Linked DNA regions of Homo sapiens: region 1 is linked to region 2. Evidence: fine-mapped expression QTL. Tissue or cell type: fibroblasts. Region 2 holds a variant in brackets; the other region holds the start of a gene. All regions are shown on one strand. Distances are between the middles of the regions. Region 1 holds the start of ZNF772 (zinc finger protein 772). Region 2 overlaps ZNF749 (zinc finger protein 749).

Region 1 (5,387 bases), 28 kb after region 2:
CAGGTACCCAGGGCTCACTACCCATCACCAGTGAGGCAACTATGTGGGACATGAAAGATGTATGTCCTAAGGGAAAGATAGAACAGCACTGGTCTGGGTAACCCATATAGAAAACTAAATATTATTAAAATAATCTCAGAGTAAGGTCTTGCAGGAATAGTGCAGTGGTCCTAGCAAGTAGCGACCATAATGGTCCCTACAATTCCTGACATAGGCAGGCCACAGGAAATGTCAGCTAAAGGAAGAGCGCAGAATCCCAGGCACAGAGGTGTCATGGATACAGACAGAGGAATTCAGACAGGGAAAGGACAAGATGGATATGACCCACTGGGCTGACAATACAATGCATAACTCCTGAATCCATGCCTGCAAGGCTCTGAGACAGCAAGCGCTGGGAATGCTCAAAAGGAGAAAGTAGGAGTGCAAACAGCCCAAGCCCAGCACTCACAGAACCTACTCCAGGCACTAAGAAATGAGACAGTGTCCACGGCTCTGATGTAGGAAGGACAAAGATGCCCTGAAAAAAAGGGGAAGGGCAGGACCCAGTCCAAGTCACTGGGGTGGATGTGACGGCCTTACCCAGAGAGGCCATAAGTGCAAAGTTCTCCAGCATCACATCACGGTACAGGAGCCTCTGAGCCTCATCAAGGAGCACCCACTCCTCCTGGGAGAAGTACACGAACACGTCCTCAAAGTTCACCTGCCCCTGCCACAATCAGGAGAGCCAAGTCCATGAGCAGCATCTCTCCCAAGAACCCCCATCCGTGCCCCCACACATCTCCCTCCTGTACACCCTCCTACCTAACTCCTCAACTCAGGAAATATCAGGACCAGATGTCATTGGTGTCTTCTCTCGCCTCATGGTCCCAATGGATCACTGTGTCTACCCATAGCAACCACAGGCAGGTGAAGAAGTTGTCACCCTCTAAGCTCTGTGCTTAGCATACAGGGCCTCACCCTTCTGTAAGCAAATTCCTCTGGGGTCACTAACATCATGCTTACCAGACAACCAAAGATGGGCTTGCCTTTCTCCTTTAAGCCCAGACGTCATCAGTCTACACTTCTTTCCATATGTACATCACTCTTTGGATCACAGTTATCTCACAACTCTGGCTCTCCACCATCACTTTCCTGGCTCACTAAATGCACTACCACTGTGAAATGAATATTCTCTTTTAACTCCCAATCTACATAATCATCTTTAAGCCATTTCAGGATGATTCCCGCCCCCTTGCTCTTGGTTCCCACCAGACATGACAGAGACCTGCAATTTCTTGAAAACTCCCTTCTCAGTCTCACCTCTAAGTATTTTGCACAGGCTGGTTCCTGTGCCTGGAACAACCTTCCAACCTTATTCCAATGGTTGGCAGAAATGGAAACCCCTCCATAAAACCCCTGGCCCGGAGTCAGGACCCTGGGCTTGGGGCTTCTCCAGAGTCCTCAGACCCAAGAGATCGGAGAGTAGCAGGAGAGTGTTCTATATAACACCACAATGCTGGAGAGCGTATTGGGTGGGGGTGGGATCGGTGAGAGCATGGACATTCTCCCCTCACCTGTATAGGGTCCACAATTACTTCTGAGTTCATGGGAACCTGTGGGGAAGAGGGAGACTATGCGAGTCAAGCAATCTTGAAGGAACCCCAAAGGCTCAACCCCATCCCATATTCCTACCCAGTTACAATGTGCCTGGGAGCTGAATGTCTACCCTCTGTGCTTCCATCTTCAAGGATACCTCTTAACTGTGTTAGCTCGGAACAGTGCTCATTATCCGCCCCCATGGCCAACAAGAGTCTGCCCTCCATGAGCAGTCTATGGAATACTTTTTAAACCCTCGGATTCTGGCTCTCCTCTGTTCAGAACCTTCCATGGCTCCCATCACCCTCAGAATAGAGACCCAGCTGCTCAGGATGATATTCCAGGTGCAATCACTTATAAAGCGCTCTGATCCTTTCAGACACTAAAGGCCCAGTTTTCCCAAATGCTCCAGCTGTGAACCATCTCTGAGCCTTTGCATACACTGGTCTCTCTGCCTGGAACGTCCTTCAACTCGTGCTGTCAAAATGGGTCCCAAACACGAGCGCCCCCACTGTTCTAGATACAGGGGCCTGAGCTGCAGTAACCCGAGGAATCGTTCATTCGAAGCTTTGGGATTCAGAGATGGGGGTCAGCGCGCAGACTCGCAGACGCAGCACCCACCTGTGCCGGGCCCATCGGCTCAGCCGCCGCCATCAGGCCTGTGGACTACGGAAGGGTGGCGACAAGTGCAGGAACCTGGGATCAGCTGTCCAGGGCCCAGCCCAGCGGCTAGGTCACTCAGGCAGCGCCACTGTCAAGCCTCAGGCCCACCTCTCTTCAGGGAAGAAGACACTCTCTCACGTTTTCCCTTTTCTGTCACCTCAGGTCTGACATTGCGTTCTGGAAACTAAACCAGTGGATTAATGGAAAAGCAAACAAAATGTCCACCCGAGGATGGTAGAGGAAGTCCCGCCCTGACGTTGGTGAGGACCAACGGAAACGCCTATTTCCTGGGTTTTCATTGGCCCAGAGCCGCCAAGTTTCCTGGGTAATGTAGTTCCCACGGCACCAACACTAGTAAGCGGCGTCTCGCTTCACCTCCAGGTTAAAAGCCCAGAGAAGACCGCCAGGGGCGCGTGGAAATGGTGTCCCTCGTCTCCAAGGCCCAGACGGAGCTTAGCTTCCTCTTGAAGGAGCCATATCTGTATTTCTGGTGAACGTCGTGTTTGACATCAAAGGAATGTTTAGAGACATGATTTCAGCCTTCCTTACGCAGAGAATGCTCATCAAAAAATAAAATGGACACACCATACACTGACGTCACTCAGATTTCTATGGCTGGAAGTTAACAAATATTGTTTTCAAATGCGTGTAGCCTGATGCTCCAGAGTTAGTTTGGCGAGCCTCAGCATTTTCTGTCAGGCACAAGAAAGAAAAGACTCCAGACACCATGATGTGGAACGTGGAGTGGGGATGTTTGGTGGCCTTGAAGTAAGTGAATAACCCTTCTGTCTGTTACCTCAGAAAATATTTATCCTGCTTATACAGCAGTGATTGTGTCAAACCCAACAAGTAATACTCTTGTTCAAGATAGTATTTCATACTCCATATACAGAGATGTATTCAATATTTTAAGTGTTTTACAAGTGTCTGAAAAGACAGAATTCATCAAATGTCATATGGCAATGAAAAGGGCAACATGAACACTTTCTGTAAAGAAGAAATAACCACCAAACTAGATGTCTATACACAACAAAATGTCTTTTATGGAAGTGTGATATAAAACTATTTGAAACCAAAAATGATAAATGTAATGGAAATACATTTACACAAAAAATAATGTTTAAAATAATACTCAAGGCCAAAGAAAGTTGATCTCAGGTGAAAAGTCTGCAATGAGAGAAGAAATGAAGATGAAAAGAAGTGCATCTTTTGATTAAAATAACAGCATATTACAGTGTAAAACATAAGTAGATATACTTATTGAGTTAGAATGATGGAATTCCCGTGCGTAACCTCAACTACATATAAATTGAAAGGAGGCTAGTTGCTCAAAGTTTTAAATTTTTTATATTTCCAAGTGGAAAGCAAATGTATTACAATCCTGTATGGCACGCTAATGTGTTAAACGTTTGTAATTTTTAGCCTAAATATAATAAATACAGTCAGCGTATATACTTTTCAAACTAGAAGAGGAAATGTTTGGAATATAAATAAATAATCAATAGAAAGGTAAAATAATAGTAAAATAAGTGGAAGAAGTGAGGCAAAGAAAAGCACAATGTAGGATATATTTAAACTGTCAACCTAAATAACAGAGATTCTTCAAAGATGTTGAGTTCATTCAGGAATGCACAGGGGATTTGCAAATCCAGGACATGCAGGCTATAGGGACTATAGGCATATCCAGAGAGCTTGAAACAAGGAGAAGCTTTCAAAGGCAAAAGGGAAAAGTATATATAATTTGTTTTGAGATAAAAAGAACATTGGTCACAGATGTTTATGGCAGAGGTTAACACCAGTTCATTAGTGGAGACAATCTGTCAGGCAAGTGTTCTACTACATCTAGAGCTGTCCTTGTAACTCCTGTAGCAAGCTGCGGTTTGAGAAGTTCTTGTCAAAACTTCTTTTAACGGGAATATGTGCATTAAGAGCCCTCAGAGACAGTAATAGCTCTTATCTTAAGCATGTGTGTTTGAGTGCCCTCTTTTCTCAGCCTCCTGGCTTTATTTATTTATTTACTTATTTATTTATTTTACACAAGTTACTCATTTTGGTTTTGACAACTTTTGCAAAACCTAAATGACTATGCAATAAATACTCAAATAAGCAGTTAGTAATTTTTGATGGACCAAAACACGCTTCACGAGGTATTCTCTTTTCTTCAGTGAATTTCCACAGAATTTGAATTGTGATTGAAAGCACAACTAACATTCCCAGACTCCCTACTCTGTCAGTAAGAAAAGAATCATGTTGTAGTTAGAAACGTCCAAAATCTGCTTTAGAGAAACCAAGACCTACGCTTGAAGGTTACCAGGCCCTTGACTCACCCAACTGGGCTGAGATGTCATCAGGGAACTGCATATCATCAGCATCTTCTGGTTATTCATACAGGGGTGGGATAAGGATGACAATAATTTACATTTAATAATGTCCATATCCTAGACATTCTATCAGACCTTTTATAAACACTACGCACTTTTGCCCTGTAAAGTGGATTTGTCACCTAAATTAATATGAGGAAACTGAGGTTTCTTGGGTCTATAATTTATTTTCAGCTGTAGCTGTTAAGTGGCATAGTTGGCAATGGAGTCCAAGGAGCCATGACTAACTACTTCCCAGCATGGCCTCCTACCCTAGGTCATCTATCTGGGTAGGTTCAGAGCCCTTTCTATGTTAGACAAACAAGGCTATGAAAAATTCAATGTCCCAGGCAGCTGACATGAGGACAAGAATGTGTCTTGCCTTTTCTTCACCACAGAAACATGAACCTTCAGCTTCATTTATTCCCTAAACGTGGGTTCCTTGGATGCCAATCAAGAATCAAAACAGGAAAAGTCCTGCTGGCCCACAAATACAGAGGGTTTGATAGGTGAAATGTTATTGCCTGAGCCTCACCGTATCATCCCAACCACCCACATATCCTGTTACCTCTGCCTCCTAATATGTCTCAGGTCATCTTCTTCTCAACACCTCCAATTTCATGCCCTTGGGCCAATCTGCCAACATTCCTGAGCTACACAATGCCTTCTGCCTTGTATCCTACATCAGTTTTTTCTCTACTTTAGTTCATTCTCCACATATCATGCAGAAGATGACTTCAACACAAATCAGGTTCTATTTGGGAGAATCAGAAGCATGTTGGTGGCTAG
Region 2 (5,387 bases):
TAAATTAATTTTTTCTTTAGTAATAAATTAACCTTAGTCTACTGTAACGTTTTTACTTCATGAACTTTTAAAATTTTAAAAAGCTTTTTGACTCTTTTGTAATAATAGCTTAAAACACAAACACATTATACAGCCTGTATAGAAGTACTCCTTTATATTCTATAAACTTTTTCTATTTAATTTTTTAACTTCGTAAAAAATAAGTTAAAAATGAAGACACAGACACACACATTAGTCAAGGCCTACAGAGGGTGAGGATCATTAATATCACTGTCTTTTGCCTCCACATCTTGTCCCACTAGAAGGTTTTCAGGCTCAATAACAGGGAGTTGTTATCTCCTATGATAACAATATTCTGGAATATTTTCTGAAGCCTTGCCTCACACTTTTTTTTTTTTTTTTTTTTTGAGACAGAGTCTCGCACTGTTGCCAGGCTGGAGTGCAGTGGCACAATCTCGGCTCACTGCAACCTCTGCCTCCTGGGTTCAAGTGATTCTCCTGCTTCAGCCTCCCGAGTAGCTAGGATTACAGGTGCCTGCCACCACGCTCAGCTAATTTTTTGTATTTTTAGTAGAGATGGCGTTTCACTATGTTGGCCAGGCTGGTCTCGAACTCCTGACCTCATGATTCGCCCGCCTCAGCCTCCCAGAGTGCTGGGATGACAGGCATGAGCCACCGCGCCTGGCTTTATTTTTTTTTTGAGACAGAGTCTTGCACTGTTGCCTGGGCTGGTGTGTAGTGGTGTGATCTTGGCTCACTGCAACCTCCGCCTCCCGGGTACAAGCGATTCTCCTGCCTCAGCCTCCCGAGTAGCTAGGATTACAGGTGCCCACCAGCATGCCCGGCTAATTTTTTGTATTTTTAGTAGAGATGGGGTTTCACTATGTTGGCCAGGCTGGTCTCCAACTCCTGACCTCATGATCCGCCCATCTCGGCCTCCCAAAGTGCTGGGATTACAGGCATGAGCCACAGCGCCCGGCCTGTGCTCTTTATATGACTGGCAGACCAGTAGGTTTGTTTACACCAGTGTCACCACACACACTTGAGTAATGGGATTGAGTTACAGTGGCTGTGGTGGCACTAGGTGATAGGAGTTGTTTAGCTCTGTTATAATACGGGATTACTGTTATACATGTGGTCCATGGTAGACAGAAATGTGTGGCATATGACTGTGGTATATGTATATGCCACTTTTCCTGTATTCTTTCTTCAGTGTACATTTGGGTTGCTTCCACTCTTCTGTTCTTGTTAATGCCACTATGAGCATGAATATACAAATACCTCCTGAGGCCCTGCTTTAAATTCTTCTTGGACATATACCCAGAAGTGGAAATGGTGCTTCCCGTTAATAATAATAATTATAATAATAATAATTATTATTATTATTTTGAGACGGAGTCTTGCTCTGTCACCCAGGCTGGAGTTCAGTGGCACAATCTCGGCTCACTGCAAGCTCCGCCTCCCGGGTTCACGCCATTCTCCTGCCTCAGCCTCCCAAGTAGCTGGGACTACAGGTGCCCGCCACCACGCCCGGCTAATTTTTTGTATTTTTAGTAGAGACGGGGTTTCACCGTGTTAGCCAGGATGGTCTTGATCTTCCTGACTTTGTGATCCATCCGCCTCAGCCTCCCAAAGTGCTGGGATTACAGGCGTGAGCCACCACGCCTGGCCACTTCCCGTTAATTCTATTTTAAATTGTGGGGGGAATTATTTTCCATAGCAGCTGCACCATTTTACATTCTCACCAGTGCAGGGGTTCTAGTTTTTCACATTATTGCCAACACTTTGTTTTTTAATCATGATGGGTGTAAGATGTTATTTTATTATGGTTTTTTAATTTGCATTTCAGTATTGGTGTTGAGCATCTTTTCATTTGCTTGTTGACTAATTGTATAGGTTCTTTGGAGAAATATCTGTTAAATGTCTTTGCCCATTGAAGAAAGTTTTTGTAAATTTTCAGATAACATTGTATGCTTTTGTTGTGTACAACATGATGTGAAGTATATATACTTTGTTGAGTGGTTAACATGTACGTATTATATATGTACATATTCTGTATACGTATTTTAAATATTAACCCCTTGCAGATATGTGTTTTTCAAATACTGTCTACCATTCAGTCTGCTTCCTTTTCATTCTGTTCATGTCTTTTTTTTTTTTTTTTGCACAGGAGTTTTCAAATTTCAATGGAGTCCAATATATGTTATGTTTGTTTCCTATGCTTTTGGTATTATACCCAAGAAATTATTGCTAAATCCAGTGTCATGAACCTTTTTTCATGTTATTTTCTAGGAGTTTTATAGTTTTAAGTTGTACTTTTATGTCTGATTTATTTCAGTTTGTTTTAGTAAATGGAGGAAGGTAAG[A/T]GTTCAACTTCATTCTTTTGCATATAGATATCCAGCTTTTTGAAAGTCATTTGTTGAAAAGACTCCTTAATAAGTTTTTGCGCTCTTGTCAAAAATCTGAGCATAAGTATGAGGACTTCCGTCTGGCCTCTTTATTCCACTATATGTATGCATTTGTGCTAGTACCAAGGTGTTTTGATACATAATTCTTTTAAAAGAATAATGTTTCTGTCCACTGTTGAGGCCCTTGCTAGAGGCTTGACAGTGCTACATTTGGAACAGCTGATTAAGTACACTTCCAACCACTTTCCTTAACAGGCTGTCAAACTCTGGGTCAATATATATCAGCCCCAGTCACCCCAGGAGCAGGTATCAGACATCTGGGGACAACTCCTATGCCCTGAAATGTGTAAAATTACTCAAATTGGCCAAGTATAGAAAGCCCAGAAAATCTAGCTAACCCGAATCCACTTGCCACACACAAGCTGCCTCCTACAACTCCAGTTTGCTGTATTACTATCTATATTCCTTCACAACTCCGGTGCAGCCCTGAATCATGTCCTCTGGTTCTGAGTTGTAAGTTACAACATGCTCCACCTTTCATCTATCTGTCATGTCATGTCCTGACATCAAGAAAACTTCTAAATCTTAAAACTACATACCCAGAAGGGTATCATGAGTGCAGCGAATGTTGGAAAGTCTTCAGCCATTAACCTCATTCAGCACCAGTAAACCATCTTGGAGAAAGACCTTAGGAATGCAGGCAGGCAAAGTGCTTTTGCCAGCAGATAAAATAGTAAAGCTGTGGATATTAGCTTTTGTGAGGGAGACCTCAACCAGAAATGGAATCTTACATCCAAACATCCACACAAGGGAGGTTTGTTGTAATTGTCTGCTATATGAGAAGCTTTTGTGAATTACCTTGCACTTTCTGACCTGCCTGGGATCCTTGCCAGTGTTAAGTCACTGAAAGTGTGTACTACAAAAGACTTCCATCCACTATTAGCTGATATCACAGTGTGTATCACCTTAAAATGCTTAGGGAGGGCAGATAGCTGTGCTCTCTACCTTTATCTGGAGTTATTGAGTCTGATCCCTTCGGGCGAGGCCTCATTCCCACTTCCATGGCTGGTTTGGGTGCAGACATCATCCAACTTTGGACAGAGGATACAGGCTGGCTTGAGCTGGCAGCTTGTAAAGATTTTCCTTTCTTCATGGGTATTATTGCTTGTCTTATAATGTTGGTGATAGATTTTTCACCTTCCAAGCTGCCCAAACCCAGTCAATTTCCACGTGACTATACTGGTTTTAGTGATGATAAAGTCATTGTTTAAGCTACATTTACTCATTGCAGTTTTATTCTCTGTGTGCTGTGGGTTGAGAGCAAAATTGGAGTCTGCCAAAATGAAAAAGTGAGTGGTTTTGTGAGGTTTTCAATTTTATGTACTTCCAAGGAAATAGCAAAAACAAAAAAACCAAAAAAAAAAAAAAAAAAACAACTCAATCCACAAACGCCTGATGTATATTGCTTCAGAAGGTTCCTGGGAAAAAGAAGGATTTCTATCCAAAATCCTTTACCCTGAATTTGAAGATTATTTATGGTTGCACAGTCAGCTTGCAGCCAGGACAATTGGTTTGACAACTGTCAGGATTTATGGCAGCTGTGAGAGCTGGGTATTTGTACCCATGCATGTCCCATATTCTCCAGTATTGTTTAGGGATAGCTTGCTCCTGTGATGTGCCTTATGAGCTATGTGTCTTGAACCCAAAAATGATGTAGGTTATGTTCCTGGATGTAAAATGTAAGAGTGCATTAGTTTGTTGTCCATTGCTTATAAAATAATACCTGAAACTGGGTTATTTATAAAGAAAAATCTATTTCTTACAGTTATGGAGGTTGAAAGGTCCAAGGTTGAGTGGCCGCATTTGGTAAGAGCCTTCTTGCTGGTAGACTGTGCAAAAAGTCCCAAGGTGGTACAGGGCATCACATGGTGAGGCTGCTGAGTGTGCTCACATGTTAACGTGCTAGCGCAAATCATTCTCTCTCTTTTTTTTTTTTTTTTTTGAGACGGAGTTTCGCTCTTATCGCCCAGGCTGGAGTGCAATGGCGCGATCTTGGCTCACTGCACCTCCGCTTCCTGGGTTGGCTCACCGCAACCTCTGCCTCCCGGGTTCAAGCAATTCTTCTGTCTCAGCCTCTTGAGTAGCTGGGATTACAGGCATGTGCCACCACACCCCGCTAAGTTTTTATTTTTAGTAGAGCAGGGTTTCTCCCATGTTGATCAGGCTGGTCTCGAACTCCTGACCTCAGGTGATCTGCCCGCCTTGGCCCCCCAAAGTGCTGGGATTACAGGCAAGAGCCACGGCCCCTGGCCCTTTCTCTTCTTATAAAACCACCAGTTCTCCCAGGATAACCCATTAGTCTATCAACCCATAAATTGATTAATTCATTCCTGAGGATAGAGCCCTCATGATTCAATCACCTCTTAAAGGTCGCACCTCTCAGTACTACCACACTGTAGATTAAGCTTCAATGTGACTTTTGGAGGAGATGGTCAAACCATAGCAAGCAGTTTGGGAACCATAGTCTGTACAGAAACAGTGATTGTATTAATATGAAGTATGAGACACCAGCAAACTAGAGTGGAATGGATGAGCGCCTTGTAAAGAGACATCCATGAATGTTTCAGTAACTATGGCTATGTGAGATGAGGGTATACAGAAACTCTGAGGACCTACAGACGTGTGTATCTCCTGTAGGCAAAGTCATTGTCAGAGCAAGTAATCCAAAGGTGTTATGGATTCTTGTGTCTCTGGCGTTATAAAACGTATGTTGAATTTTAATTGCCATTTTAACAGTGTGGAGAAATGGGACCTTTAAGAGGTGATTAGGTCATGATGGCTCTGCCCTTATAAAGGAATCAATGCCTTTATCATAAGAGTGGGTTTGTTAACCCGAGAGTGACGTTTTTATAAAATCAGCTGTCTCTGTCTTTCATGCTCACTTGCCCTTCTGTCATATTATGACAGAGTAACAAGGCC

The links. PIP is the estimated chance that this variant, and not a neighbour inherited with it, causes the effect.
Region 1: ZNF772 starts here. The variant in region 2 is fine-mapped to the expression of ZNF772 in fibroblasts (GTEx, PIP 0.91).

What each region holds. Positions count from the first base shown.
Region 1 is chr19:57,475,081-57,480,467 of GRCh38, forward strand. It overlaps ZNF772 (zinc finger protein 772), which reads right to left and starts at 2,486. Exons shown (of 4, transcript NM_001144068.2): 1 at 2,197-2,486; 2 at 1,554-1,592; 3 at 580-706. The coding sequence starts at 2,229. RefSeq lists enhancers at 1,687-2,210, 1,801-3,000.
Region 2 is chr19:57,447,055-57,452,441 of GRCh38, forward strand. ZNF749 (zinc finger protein 749) reads left to right here. Exons shown (of 3, transcript NM_001023561.4): 3 at 1-47. Among named protein-coding and RNA genes, the nearest start is that of VN1R1, 7.4 kb to the right of the region's middle. The variant A/T (reference allele first, on the strand shown) is at 2,367.